Homo sapiens: one gene and its partners. The protein of the gene in region 3 purifies or fractionates together with the protein of the main gene of each other region. This does not show direct contact. Each region holds a gene or a part of one and is shown on either strand. Other genes may lie near its edges.

What was found. The genes of interacting proteins can lie anywhere in the genome.
Region 1: the proteins of CACNB3 (region 3) and TMOD1 purify together in Homo sapiens (affinity purification with mass spectrometry; one large-scale study listed by BioGRID and IntAct). This does not show direct contact.
Region 2: the proteins of CACNB3 (region 3) and ZYG11B purify together in Homo sapiens (affinity purification with mass spectrometry; one large-scale study listed by BioGRID and IntAct). This does not show direct contact.
Region 4: the proteins of CACNB3 (region 3) and ACBD3 purify together in Homo sapiens (co-immunoprecipitation; one large-scale study listed by IntAct). This does not show direct contact.

The regions. Positions count from the first base shown.
Region 1 is NC_000009.12:97,504,666-97,508,165, forward strand, and holds part of TMOD1 (tropomodulin-1), read left to right. Parts: intron 1-3,500. UniProt on the Homo sapiens protein: Blocks the elongation and depolymerization of the actin filaments at the pointed end. The Tmod/TM complex contributes to the formation of the short actin protofilament, which in turn defines the geometry of the membrane skeleton.
Region 2 is NC_000001.11:52,823,953-52,827,452, forward strand, and holds the end of ZYG11B (protein zyg-11 homolog B), read left to right. Parts: 3' UTR 1-3,384; downstream 3,385-3,500. UniProt on the Homo sapiens protein: Serves as substrate adapter subunit in the E3 ubiquitin ligase complex ZYG11B-CUL2-Elongin BC. Acts to target substrates bearing N-terminal degrons for proteasomal degradation with the first four residues of substrates being the key recognition elements.
Region 3 is NC_000012.12:48,821,496-48,824,995, forward strand, and holds part of CACNB3 (voltage-dependent L-type calcium channel subunit beta-3), read left to right. Parts: intron 1-1,848; coding exon 1,849-1,971; intron 1,972-2,185; coding exon 2,186-2,308; intron 2,309-2,762; coding exon 2,763-2,878; intron 2,879-3,173; coding exon 3,174-3,238; intron 3,239-3,453; coding exon 3,454-3,473; intron 3,474-3,500. UniProt on the Homo sapiens protein: Regulatory subunit of the voltage-gated calcium channel that gives rise to L-type calcium currents. Increases CACNA1B peak calcium current and shifts the voltage dependencies of channel activation and inactivation.
Region 4 is NC_000001.11:226,152,242-226,155,741, reverse strand, and holds part of ACBD3 (Golgi resident protein GCP60), read left to right. Parts: intron 1-764; exon of another isoform or gene 765-908; coding exon 909-1,095; exon of another isoform or gene 1,096-1,139; intron 1,140-3,122; coding exon 3,123-3,407; intron 3,408-3,500. UniProt on the Homo sapiens protein: Involved in the maintenance of Golgi structure by interacting with giantin, affecting protein transport between the endoplasmic reticulum and Golgi. Involved in hormone-induced steroid biosynthesis in testicular Leydig cells.

The DNA.
Region 1 (3,500 bases), on a different chromosome or scaffold from region 3:
GTATCTGCGATGGAGGATGGTGATGGGCTGTGAAGAGTGTTTTGACCCTGCTCTGGGGCCTCATAACCTTGGCTTATTTATTTCTGAAATGACATCATCTATCGATGACTCCTGCTGAGCCCGGTCGTAATGGCCTTTTCCAGTCAATGTTTTGACTTTTCAGTCTTACTAATGGACCAGCCAGGCTGCCAACATTTCTAAAGAGGCCAGTTTACTTTTCCCTTAAAGCCAGAACACCAGATAAATCAATTATTGGGCTGCTAGGAGCCATTATCAGTTTAAAACCACAGGCCTGTTTCTATGGAAAAGCATGAACCAGATAGCACAATTCCGGGCCATTTCCTCTCTTTTGTTTTGTTTTGTAAAATCTTCCTTTGGCTAATCATGATAGAACCTAATTCTCTTTGCTCTTAATGAGAGAATGAGCTCATTGGAGTCAACTTAGGACACGGTCTGGGAGGTTTTCTTTCGTGTTAGGTGTTGCTGGGTTTTTGTCTGATCTGAAAAACTAAACAAACTCAAGCATGCCTTTTGTTTCTCCTTCTCTTATGTCCTTTTGGTTTTCTTTCAGAGAAAAAAATGATTTGTGAAAGGGTTGGACATTACCATCTGTGAGGAGGAAAGAGGGAGGGAGAGGGAGACAAGGGCTTGCGTCCGTCCACGCATGTCCATCCCTGTCTCAGTTCATGTTCTCAGGGGCCCCAGCCTCAGGCCCCACTCACTCTGGGGCTTCAAGGGTGGTGACCCCAGGGCCGTTTCTAGCGATGATTCTGGAGGGTGATGAGTTGTGACCACTGCGTTGTTGCTCTCCATGCCCAAAGGAATGAAGGAAAGCAGAACTGCCTCTGGGCATCCTTCAGCCTCCTTCATAGACTCATCGCTGCTGCCCATCGCTTTGCTGTTGGTGCCTTGGTGCCACTCCTACCCCTATTCTCTTTCCACCGCACACTCTCACAGTCTCATTCACTCCCACGACTCCAGTCACCTCCCAACTCCCTAATTCTTGCATCAAGCTGGACTGTGCTCCTCATCTATAGACATCTCTGCCTCCTGATTCCTTTCTCTTCACCACCCCATTCATTTGCCCACCAAGTCCTGTCAATGCTACCTTCCTTAATTTCTCTTACATCCATTTCTATCGCCACATCCAGTACCCCAGTAAGGACTTCCTCTCTCCCCTAAGCTGCTCTCAGAGCCTCTTAAAGGTATTTCTGCCTCAAGTCATTCCTTCTTCCATGCTGCTCTTAAAAGATCTTCACCTGCGTCAATTGTCTCCCTTCAGGGACTCCCCATTTCCTAAGGGATAAAGACCAGATTCATTAGCCTCTAAGACCGGGCCTCAAGCTACTTCTCCAAAATCATCTCTAGGCACTCCTCCAAATTCTCTTTACCTTCTGGCCATGGCAAAAGCATGCTGTGCCTTCATGCCTCCCTGCCTTTCCCCTGCTGTTCTTTCGGCCTTCAGTGCTGTTCTCCCTCTTCTCAGTCTGTGAACTTGTAATCACCCTTAAAAGCAAAGTTCTTCATTGATTTACCTGTACCCCCACAGCCCCCTGTGCCAACTCAGAGCACCAGCCAGAGTGTGTTCTAAATGGAACCACCCAATGATGTATCTCTGTCTCTGGCTAGACTAAAAGCTCCCTGAGGACGAGGTTTCTGACTCATTTATTTCTGCTTCCCCATGTGCAGCTCAGAGCTTAATGTGTGACATAGTACAGGCACTTCAGGTTTTAATAAATGGCTGACCACCGAATGAATGAATGAATGCATGAAATAAATGAATGAAGGCTCTGTGATAACCAGGACAGTCACACAACACCAACCAGCATTTACAGCATGTTCTCCTACCCGACCAAATCATCAGCTCTATGAGGGCAGAGACCACACCTATTCTGCTCCCCACTGCCAGCTCTCCAGCTCCTATCAGCCCCATCATGATACGTAGCTAGTGTGAATCCAAGAGCTCATTTGAAATTCACAGTAACCCCATGAGGGAGGAACAGCAAGTATTGTTACCTACCTTTTGTAATGGGACAGTGAACCCTAGTAGGAATTGTCCCAGGTCATCCAATTCCAGAAAACTGAAGTGCTCTCCAGGGTTTGACAAACTTGAGAAATGAGTCTTCTTGTTTTATATCCGTGCTTCTCTAACTTTAATGTGCATTGAAATTACTTGGGATCTTTTCAGAAATGCAGATTCTGGTTCAGTAGGTATGAGATGGGGCTTGAGAGTCTGAGTTTCTAAAAAGCTCCTTGCTTCTAATAAGCTCTAATAAGTTGATTAGAAAATAAACTTAATAATTCCTAATAAGCTCTAATAAACATCTAGTCAGGTGGTGTTGACTAGTATCTACAAACCACCACATTTTGAACACCAAGGTGAGTGCTAGTTACCACAAAGCTTCCTCCTGGCCATTGCATTAAGATAGTGGATTTTTAAATCTACAAATGAATTCATTTGTGCCTTGGATCAAAATCAAGGGCTCTTTCTGGTCAGCAAACTTCTTGCAAGTTTGGATCTATGAGCACAAGATGGGTGCCTGGGCAGTGCTGGGATGGGAACCTGAGACACCTGAGACCCTGAGACATCAAAACCACTCAGAAGTGTGCAAAGTGAAGGTAAGAGAGAGGGAGACGTGAGGACAGACTTCCTCCATGCAAACCAAGAGAGATTTAAAAATTCAGAATGGATAGCAACATTGCACGCATTTGCTTATTATGGTTTTACATTGTATTCCACTTACAGCATTAAAAAGGCTTGAGATGGCTTAAAAAATAAACTACATGACCAATGCAACTAGTAAGAACAGAAATTCTAGAAAGACAGGCAGAAACCCTGAAGATTAAGATCACGAAACTCCTGGAGAATCTGATTAGAGCTTATGAATTCTTGCTCCACAAAAATGAATATATTCATATACACAACAATTTGCATATCATTTCAGTGGGTGTGTGATTCCCCTGAAGCCTATTCAAAAGTCCGGGTTAAGAGCACCCGATACAGAGAATAAAGAGAGAAAATTATGCCAGTGCCCTGGCTGAAGATGACAACTGTATTTGGACACTCAAATTGGCTCTGAGATGACTCATGGCAGCCAAGGGGAAAGGGGGGGACAAGATGAATGGGAGGACTCTTGGTGTCTGATAGTAGAAGGAAGAACATCAATCAGTCTTTCAGGAGAGGGAACTATTTTCTTAACCCCAATCCTCAGTATATTGTCAAGACAGGCCACTAGACAGAGGGCATAGTAGTTAAGGCGGACTCCGGATCAGTCTGCACAAGGCCAGGGAACCTAGGAGCAATGAAGGGCAGACTCAAATCCTTCATTAGTCCTTTGGGGGGCCTTAAATAGCAATTGACACATAATGAAACACAATCTATCTTCCTGATTCACACACACACACACACACACACACACACACACACACACACACACACAGACTCTGGAGACCACCTTGCTGGATTCAAATCCAAGGTCTACTAGTTACTGGCTCTGTAA
Region 2 (3,500 bases), on a different chromosome or scaffold from region 3:
AAACCCCGTCTCTACTAAAAATACAAAAACTAGCTGGGCATGGTGGCTTTTTTGCACGCCTATAGTCCCAGCTACTCGGGAGGCTGAGGCACGAGAATCACTTGAACCCAGGAAGTGGAGGTTGCAGTGAGCTAAGATCGTGCCACTGCACTCCAGCCTGGACAACGGAGTGAGACTCTGGGGAAAAAAAAAATTAAACTTCCTACTTTTTTTCTTTTTGTAGAGACAGAGTTTCACTCTGTCGCCCAAGCTGGAGTGCAGTGGCACAATCATACCTCACTGCAGCCTCTTGGGCTTATGTGATCTTACCCCCTCAGCCTCTGGAGTAGCTGGAACTACAGGCTAAATTTCCTACTTTGTAAACATCAGTAGTGGCCAGATACTTCTGAGTCTTAAAAGCATAATAGGCCGGGCGCGGTGGCTCACGCCTGTAATCCCAGCACTTTGGGAGGCCGAGGTGGGTGGATCACAAGGTCAGGAGTTCAAGACCAGCCTGGCCCAAATGGTGAAACCCTGTCTCTACTAAATATACAAAAATTAGCTGGGTGTGGTGGCGGGCACCTGTAATCCCAGCTACTCAGGAGGCTGAGGCAGGAGAATCGCTTGAACCTGGGAGGTGGAGGTTGTGGTGAGCCAATATCATGCCACTGCACTCCAGCCTGGGTGACAGAGTAAGACTCCGTCTCAAAAAAAAAAAAAGCATAATAATTTATTACATCCCAAATATATAAAAATTTGAGTGCCTTTGCAGTTGGGATGGTTCCTAAAATTGCGTATAGAATTAAGGCACAGAATTGTGTGTAAGGTCCTGAATCTGGCTAAAATACAGTGGATGTATGTATTGGAATTATGAGGCATAAGTAGCCAGTATCTATAGTTAGAATCTACAAGGCCTCCTTTTTGCACCTGTAGACTAGAATATAACTGTTATTGGTGCCTTTGAGTGTTATCTCTCAGTGGCTAGAGGTGCTGTTTCAAGCACAATTTAGACTAGGGTTGAACCACTCATTGTTCAAATCATTGGTGGGCTCCAATGTAAAATATCACTACATCAGTCCACAAGCAACATTAAGGAAATCTAAAGGAAATGGAATTTGACTTTTTAGAGTATAATGATGTTCTAGGGCATAATGAGGAAAATTTTTAAAAAATAGATTATAATGATACATATTGGTATCATTAAGACAACAGATTTGAGCAAATACAATTAAGGTGTCTTATTTTTTGCATCAAGTAATTATTGCTGTGGTCTTTCTACTCCACAAAATAATTTTTTCTTTTTGCAGTTGAAAATTAACTGCATTATTAACTAATTAATAAAATAAATCAAGTGGTATAAGGGATTAGTTTACCCTCAAGCCGATGACTCCATGGCTACTGATATTAGTTAGTTTAGGATTTTTAAAAAGCATATCAGACCCCCAGTTTCAGGAATTGAGTATAAATATTGCTTCTTGTCACCCTGGGACAGTAATGCCTTATAGTGGCACTAGTCACCTTAAGTAGATTACACATGGTTGAGGTGAATAAAGCTGCATGGGAATTTGCTTTCGTGATATATTTCATTTGCAAACTTCTACATAATCAAGTTTTATGTTTAAAACCATCGGTTCTATATATCTAGCTTTAGGAAGTTGCCCTTACAGGTGGGACCTTTTGTGTTAATCTGTTTTCTCCCCAGTCATCTTATTTGGCTATGTTAAAAAAAAAAAAAAAAAAAAAGCGAGAGAGAGAGATGGTGTCTCACTGTGTTGCCCAGGCTGGTCTCGAACTCCTGGCCTCAAGTGACTTTCCCACCTCAGCTTCCCAAAGTGCTGGAATCACAGGCATGAGCCACAGTGCCTGGTCTTAGCTGTGTTTTTAATTATGCCATGCATCAACATAACACCGGGCCATCTTCCTATCCCTTCCTATCCCATATGTTTAATGAAAACATATTTTATGTGCTAAATTAGGTTAATTTACCAGAGATTTAGCTTAGTGTTTTTAAACTATAGAACAATACCCCTATAGAACAATGTACAGCTGCACCCAAGGTTAAAAAGAGGTAGCAGGGAAAACAAACTTAAACTCTTTGTATATGGTGAAACCCATCCCTCTCCTGCCCTCTAATGGTATGTTTACATTATTTCGTTATTATACAATGTAGTGGTATAAACAGTATTATTAAACTGAAGGCATAAGTTAAAGGAAGTATGTTACTTTGAGCTGATGTAGGCTCTTCCACTTTTATCTGTATTTTACTTATTTGGGGACTTTGTATTGCTAGGGCTTCAGAATACTAACTTTGACACAGCTCCCAGAGAGGTTTGCAAACTTTTGGTTTCCCTCTCAAATCCATGGTAGTAGTTTCAAATGAGTTTGTGGATAATGGATGTTTAGTCCTTATCATTTGCTGTGTTTTGACAGTTTTTAATTTGCAGTATTCACTCACGAACTGTTTTATTTTAGGAATAATGCAAAACCAACCTTCGTCCGGTGATGAGAATAGCCGTATGATAAGAGAATTTGCTCATCGTGCTTTAAATGATTAACTGTTTTACCTTATTTAGTATTTCATAGACTTTGCATGATATGGTACACTCCTAATTATGCATTCTTTGGTTTCCAAATCTTAATCTAAGATACTTTGTTAACTGACTGGTAGCCTAAGAAAGAGACTTTTCTTCCTGTTTTTCTCTCTCCCCATTTTTTGGGGTAAGTTTTGCAAAGATCAGTGCTGCTTCTCATGACTCTAAAGTAAAGCTCTTTTGGATAGCACAGCCTAACTTTACAGCTAGACAGAATGGCCATTAAGAATATTTCCAAAATCCAAGTTTATCAAAATTATTTTGTGGGAAATCATCAATCTATTTTATTAATGTTATGTGTTTAATTTTGGACTTATTTTGGGAAAAACTGTTCAAATTGGGTCCTTTTAAGCTTATTTTAAGCAGCCTAGAAGGAAGAAGCTACTTAGCTAATGAAAGCTGAGACACTTTATTAAAAGCAGGATCTTAAGAGCATTGTTTTTCCTTAAAAACTTTATACTCTCAGATAATCTGCAACAACAAAAATTAAGAAATCCCTGACTTTTGTAGAATTCCCACTGTCAAATTCTCACTGACTTATGAGTGTGAGAGAAGTTATCTTTTGTTTGAATTCTGATAGAACAGTTTAACTCCTTTCTAAGGATATAAAAAATTCATTGGAAAGTGTGTATATTTCAAAGACTCTCAATTATCTGGACTGAAGGCACTGTTCTCACTATGGCCAGATGAATGGGAGTATTCTGTACATGAATCATGCTGTATTTTAAATCAGGACATCACTTAAGTATTAATGTTGTGTGTACAGATTTTTGTTTTGGGATTTTTTTTGCCTAAATAAATGTTATAAATTTTATGTAAAGTGTGTCTTGTCTACTTTTATTCTAGACATTTGGCTTTAAAAGTTAATATTAATGCAAACTTCAAATTCCTTAGTGATCCACTTGTAATGATTGCTTTCTGAAAAAGGCT
Region 3 (3,500 bases):
ATAAAAATAAAGATTACTAAATTGGGCTGAGAGCCTGGAGCACAGGCAGAAAAGGTCAGACTCCTCTTTTAGCACAGTTCTGGGCCTCTGGGAGGTACCCAATGTATCTGTACCAAAGCGAGTGGTCATCTGCCTTGCCTCCTGCCTCCCAGTCTGTTGGCCCCTGTCTGGTTGCTTCAGACACCAACATCCCACAGAGGTTTCTCTTGTGTCCTAAGACCCCTGGGAAGGAGGTCCCTCACCCTGTGCAAAGATTATTTCTGGGGTTCATCCCCCACTTATCCTGCTGCCATCCAGCCTCATTTTGTTCTCAGGAGAGATGAGGAACAGTCGGCGGACTACTCTTCTGTAAAATGAAAGATCTTTCCCCCTTGTGCTATCTTCAGGCCTTTGGTCTACTATAGACACTGTCTTTAGCCTAAGGCTCGAGAGCCTGGGCTGACCCCTAGCTGAACAGCCCTCTTGCCCACGGCAGGGTAGGGGTAGAGGGCATGGTTGACAGCAGGTATGTGATTTTGCCTTCTTCTCTGAGAGTCTGGCCTCTGCTGCCTTCCGTAGGTGGTCATGCCCAGTGAGCTTGAGAGAATGTTCCTCTACCTGAGGACATTCTAAAGCCCCTTCCCCTATACACACACACACTCCTGCATGAACCCCTTATCTAGGCTTATCCCTTCTCTCTGCCACTGGCATCTCAGAATTGTGGGAAGTATCACTTGAGGCTTCTCCCCACAGAGAGGGAAAACTGAGGCAGGAAACGAAAGACTCCCTTTCCCTGACAGAGGAGGAAACCCAGACATTGTAACCTCTGGGCTCTTGTCTCAAAGTCCAGCGTCCCTTACTCATTTGTGCCTCTCCCTCATGGTCTTGAGGCTGAACTCTGTGACCGTCAAATGCACCCTCATTGCCCAAGACCTTTCCTATGGGCAGGACTCAGAGACTCTCCTTGCTCATGTTACCCCCTCCCCACATCCCCGGGGTCCTGCTCCGTAGCTAGGTTGCCTGGCACTAGCATAGCCTTCTTCTAGGGCTGATGTCCCCTGGGCCTGGGAAAGGACTAGGGAGATGTAGGCCAAGTGGTAGGTGTGGCCCAGCCTCACCTGCACCCAGGGAGACAGCTTTGTGTTCTTGGTCTGTGTCTTGTTTGCTGCCCACACCTGGCTAGTTGCCCCAGCAGGTGTGGAAGGAAGAAAAGTAGGGGGTGGGGAGAGCAAAGGGGAGGTAACTTCTAGGAGCTGGCAGCTTTGTGTCCTCCTCTTCACCCTGGAAGGGTAAGGGCTCACCATTTGGGAGCCTTCAGAGCCTTGTTGGAGTAGGGAAAGTGGAATCTTAGGGGGCAGATGGCTGGATCCCCACATTCAGGACTGGTGCTGTGCCAACCAGCATCTCTTGACTGTTGCGGCTGGCTGGACTCCTGACAGGCATCTTAAAGGGATGATGTCCAGGCTGCTTTGCAGGCTGCTATGAACAAGAGGGCTGGGTCTCCTGGATCCAGAATCATCTCTAATACATCATCTTCAGCACACCTCCCTTCCCTCGGCTCAGAGGACATGTTAGAGGGGAGAAAAGGGAGGAAAGAGAGAAGTGAAGGCTCTATTCAAAGCTGCAGTATTAATAGGCTTGGGGGAGGAGGGGCCCAGATCTTTGCACCTATGGATTGGGCCAGCTTTCCTGTAGCCTCAGAGGCACTGGGGCCCTTCTCAGGGGATAGGAGGGGCCATAGGGACCCAGCTATCCCCTTGGAGATGGAGAAACTGGGGGCAATAGAGGCAACACTGTAAGGTGAGGAGGGTGCCTCCATGGCATCCTTCATGCCGGAGCCTGGGAGTCACAGCCTCTTTCCCAACCCAGGGTTCAGCCGACTCCTACACCAGCCGCCCATCTCTGGACTCAGACGTCTCCCTGGAGGAGGACCGGGAGAGTGCCCGGCGTGAAGTAGAGAGCCAGGCTCAGCAGCAGCTCGAAAGGGCCAAGGTATACTTTCTGGGCATGGGGCAAGACAGGAGGCCAAGCTAGGTGGAAACCTGCACTCGGTCCTAAGTCCCAAGGGGTCCTTGGGCAGGATGTCCTTGAGTGTGAGAGGGTGTGTGTGATGGGCAGAGGCCACGGCCTTCTGCTGTTGGGGCACTGAAGCTGGAAGGGGTGCTTCGAGCCTTCTCTCACTTGCACTAATGGGCAAATTCTCCAGCACAAACCTGTGGCATTTGCGGTGAGGACCAATGTCAGCTACTGTGGCGTACTGGATGAGGAGTGCCCAGTCCAGGGCTCTGGAGTCAACTTTGAGGCCAAAGATTTTCTGCACATTAAAGAGGTGATCGACCCCCCTACTTCCAGAAGCCTCTAACTTCATTTTCTTGCTCTTGCTCCAGATCCTAATGCTTCTGACTTGAATCCTCAGTCTAATTCCCCAAGCTAATCAGCTCTTCTCCTTAACACACACCTGTCCACCCCTCATATCTAAGATCTCATCCCCAGGGTCTCCATCCTTCTGAGACCTGGCTTGGGCATCAGTCTCCATGTCTGTCAAGTGAGCAGTTAGATTAGCTGCCTCCGAGGTCCCCTGTGACAGCTGCAATGCCTCACTCAGAAATCCTGGGTGGCCCGAACTTGGCTGTCCTTTCCCCTGGCCCCTTCTGCCCACCGCCCCTTGCATTGCATTCCTCAGACCAGCTCAGTGACTGCCTCGCTGGCTCCTTCACATTGAAGAGCCAGGACTGGGGCGGGGCGCTTCTCTCACCACCCCTTCCTGCTCCACCTGCCCCCAGAAGTACAGCAATGACTGGTGGATCGGGCGGCTAGTGAAAGAGGGCGGGGACATCGCCTTCATCCCCAGCCCCCAGCGCCTGGAGAGCATCCGGCTCAAACAGGAGCAGAAGGCCAGGTGAGAGTTGGGCCATGAGTCAGTAAACACACCCCAAACACTTGCACTGTACCCACAGGACACGTCACCATGCATGCCATACACATGCATATCCCCCTGAAATACACATACACGTATGCCCAGCTCTACACACTCAACACTAAACAAATCTACAAACACACACACATATTGCATGTACACCTGTCTCACTAGATAAAGCATATGGAATTGTGTACAATTATTAAATAATGCATAGAACATACATACACAGAGACACATTCTTCTCTCTCTCTCTTTCACCTCCCTTTCTTCTCAGGAGATCTGGGAACCCTTCCAGCCTGAGTGACATTGGCAACCGACGCTCCCCTCCGCCATCTCTAGGTAGCCTCCCCCCAACCCACCCATTTTGGGTAGGTGGGTAGCTAAGACACAGGGAAAGAGGGGATCCTGCCCAAGTGAACTGTGTGGGAAGGGTTTGTGGAGGGATTGGAAGGGGTGGGGAGAAGCCAGTATCTCCCCTGGGGACGGGGATACCATGCCCCCAGGGACCTTTCCCCCTTCACCAACTTTAATCTTGTATTTCCTTTTCCAAAAAGCCAAGCAGAAGCAAAAGCAGGTGAGTCAAGGAAGGGACCTGGGCTGG
Region 4 (3,500 bases), on a different chromosome or scaffold from region 3:
TTTCATTGTGATCATAATTTTTCCCTGAAGTTTTAATTTATTGACTTTTTGGGGTCAATTATGTTAGAATAAATTGTCCATATTTGATTTTTTTATTGCTTTGGGGGCCCATACCAGATTTTGCCAATTATAGCTTCTGCCTTTGTGAATTTTCTTCTGTGACTATTCCCACCAAGTTTAATTTTTCTAATTCAAATTTTGTGTATTTAAAGTTTATCAAGATTTTTTTCTTCCATCAATTTCAAGAGCACATTACTGTGTTCAATTTTTGCCTTTAATAGTTTTATTTTGGGTTGATTATTTCTACTTTTTTTTTTTTTTTTTGAGATGGAGTTTCGCTTTTGTTGCTCAGGCTGGAATGCAATGGCACGATCTCAGGTCACTGCAACCTCCGCCTCCCGAGTTCAAGCGATTCTCCTGCCTCAGCCTCCCAAGTAGCTGGGATTACAGGCGTGTGCTGCCATGCCCAGCTAATTTTGTATTTTTAGTAGAGACGGGGTTTCACCATGTTGGTCAGGCTGGTCTTGAGCTCCTGACCTCAAATGATCCACCCACCTCCGCCTCTCAAAGTGCTGGGATTACAGGTGTGAGCCACTTTGGCTGGCCTTACTTTCATTTTTCCTGGTTAGTTTTTATGGTGATTCTCAGATCACAGAAATGTGAGCCTTAGTTGCAGGTTTTTGTCCACATTAATTTTTATTGATTTTTTATTATTTTTAGCTGTCAGTTTGATATTGTACTAATAATATTCATTATAGACAGGATAAAAACTGATAAAAATTTATTAGTAATTTCTTGAGCATAGCACTTTGGTAGGGCAAAAGCATGGTATCAGATGTACTCCAGGGCAGATGTCTTATTTGCTAGCCTTCCTGGTCAGTGTGTCTTCACTTTCTCTTGGTTTGTAGGCAGCATTACAGAAACAACAGGAAGTAGTAGTGGCTGGGTCTTCCTTGCCTACATCATCAAAAGTGAATGCAACTGTACCAAGTAATATGATGTCAGTTAATGGACAGGCCAAAACACACACTGACAGCTCCGAAAAAGAACTGGAACCAGAAGCTGCAGAAGAAGCCCTGGAGAATGGACCAAAAGGTAGGTTTTGCATATGTGTTTGTCCAGATGTCATAATTCCAAATCTGTGAAAGGCAAAAGTCATGAAGTCAGGTTATAATTAGCTTTTGAGAACAATTACATATTTGTGAGAGTTGAACATTTTTTTACTCTTTTTAGTCTGAATCTAATGCTCTGGTGACTCATAGACCAGTGTAGAAGAGCAAATCAGATGTCTTTGGACACTTTTAAGACAAAAGTTATGTTTTGTCATATATATATATATAAATTATCTATTGCTGCATAACAAATTACAGGCTGGGCGCAGTGGCTCATACCTGTAATCCCAGCACTCTGGGAGGCTGAGGCAGGAAGATCACTTGAGCCCAAGAGTTTGAGGCTGCAGTGAACTATGATTCCGCCTGCCTGGGTGACAAAGCAAGACTGTCTCTCAAAAAAAAAACAAACAAAAATTAATTACACCTAAATTTAGTAGCTTGAAATAACAATAAACATTTATTACTATCTTGTACAGCTTCAGTGGGTCAGGGTTTCAGGAGCAGTTTAGCTGAATGGCTCTGACTTAGGCTCCCTCATGAGATTGCAGTCAAGATGTTGATGCCAGGACTAGAAGATCTGCTTCCAAAATGGTTCCCTCACATGGCTGGCTTTTGGCTGGAAGCTCAATTCCTGGCCCCATGAAGCCTCTCCATAGGGCTTCTTGAGGGTCCTCAAAACAGTTACTGGCTTCCCCTAGCAGAAGTGGCAGTGTCTTTTATGCCTTGACTTTGGAACTCCCACCATATTCTGTTGGTCACACATACCAATCCTTATATATTGTGGGTGGTGACCTCACAAGTGCATGAAGACCCAGAGGTGAGAATCTCTGGGGACCATCTTGGAGGCTGGCTACCATAGAAATAGATATATTTTTGAGACTAATGTATCATGTTGCCTAGAAAATAACTGCATTTTCAAAGCTCTACTAGCTTTCCATGGGCAGCTCATTTGTTCATTCAGCAATTAGTTGAAGGTTTCCTGAGTGCTAGGAGTACAGTGGTGAGGCAAAATAACACACAGAAAATGTAGATTGTAGCTGTGATAAGTACGGTGATGGAGAGAGAGGTACATTATCTTTGAGAGAATGTAAAACAGGGAAGTGTGACCTAGTCAGAGAGGCCACCAGAGGCTTCCCAGAGGAAGGGACAATTGACCTGAGATATCTGAAGCAAGAGGAGTTAACTAAGTAAGGAGGAAGAGGAGAGCATTTCAGTGACAGTGGTCAGGGATGGTGGTATGGTTCATAAGAAATTTGGTTTCAGAGATCTTCCTTGTCTGTTTAGAACAAGTAATAATTGCTTCAGAAAAGGCTTTGAAATCCCTTGGTTTACTGCCCCCTTCCCTTTTTTTTTCTTATCAAGGGATTATACTAGCATCTTCAAATGAGAGAAAATATTTCAAAGGCTCTGTGACTAACTTTGAAAAACTTATTGCATAGTCAAGTGCACATAGGTACTGCTCAGTAACAAGACTTTACCCCTTTTTCTCAGTCCCTAGTGGTTCTAATCCTGTCCGAGTTTTTGTTTCTTTGAGCTCCTTTAGAATAGCCCCTAGAACTTTGGGATAGTTGGAGGTGAAGAATTTTTCAACAGACAGGCTGAAGTCAAAGTCCAGCTTTCTTTGTTCACATCCACAAGAGTAATTTATTCCTAAAGCCAGAATCTCTCTTCCTTGCTAGAATATTTCCCTCACTCCAGCTGGGGCCTTCCCAAGGTCATTCTTGAATCCCCATAGAGGGAGTGTTGAAAAAAATTCGTTTCTAAAATTGTGGGCTGCCATTGTTACTTGAAGAAGTACGATGACCTCTGAGTGCCTGCAACATTGTTAAACATAGTAATCTGGAGAGACTCCCATGGGGAGGCTTTTTTATTCCTCCAAGTCCTTGATCTAAGCTAGACCATATTGTACTTGGTGCCTGAGTACAACTGATCAGGTAGTGCTATGAAAATGTGGCTACCTGCAGGGTGAAGGCTCTTTTTCTTTAGCTTTTTAATACCTATTGCCTTTAGAATCTCTTCCAGTAATAGCAGCTCCATCCATGTGGACACGACCTCAGATCAAAGACTTCAAAGAGAAGATTCAGCAGGATGCAGATTCCGTGATTACAGTGGGCCGAGGAGAAGTGGTCACTGTTCGAGTACCCACCCATGAAGAAGGATCATATCTCTTTTGGGAATTTGCCACAGACAATTATGACATTGGGTTTGGGGTGTATTTTGAATGGACAGACTCTCCAAACACTGCTGTCAGCGTGCATGTCAGTGAGTCCAGCGATGACGACGAGGAGGAAGAAGGTAGAACCCTTGGTCCATATTCAGTAGCTGCTGGGTTGTGTGTTGGCAGAAATGGTACATAGTTCAGGTGTCACCCAGCCTTATGCTTCCTGA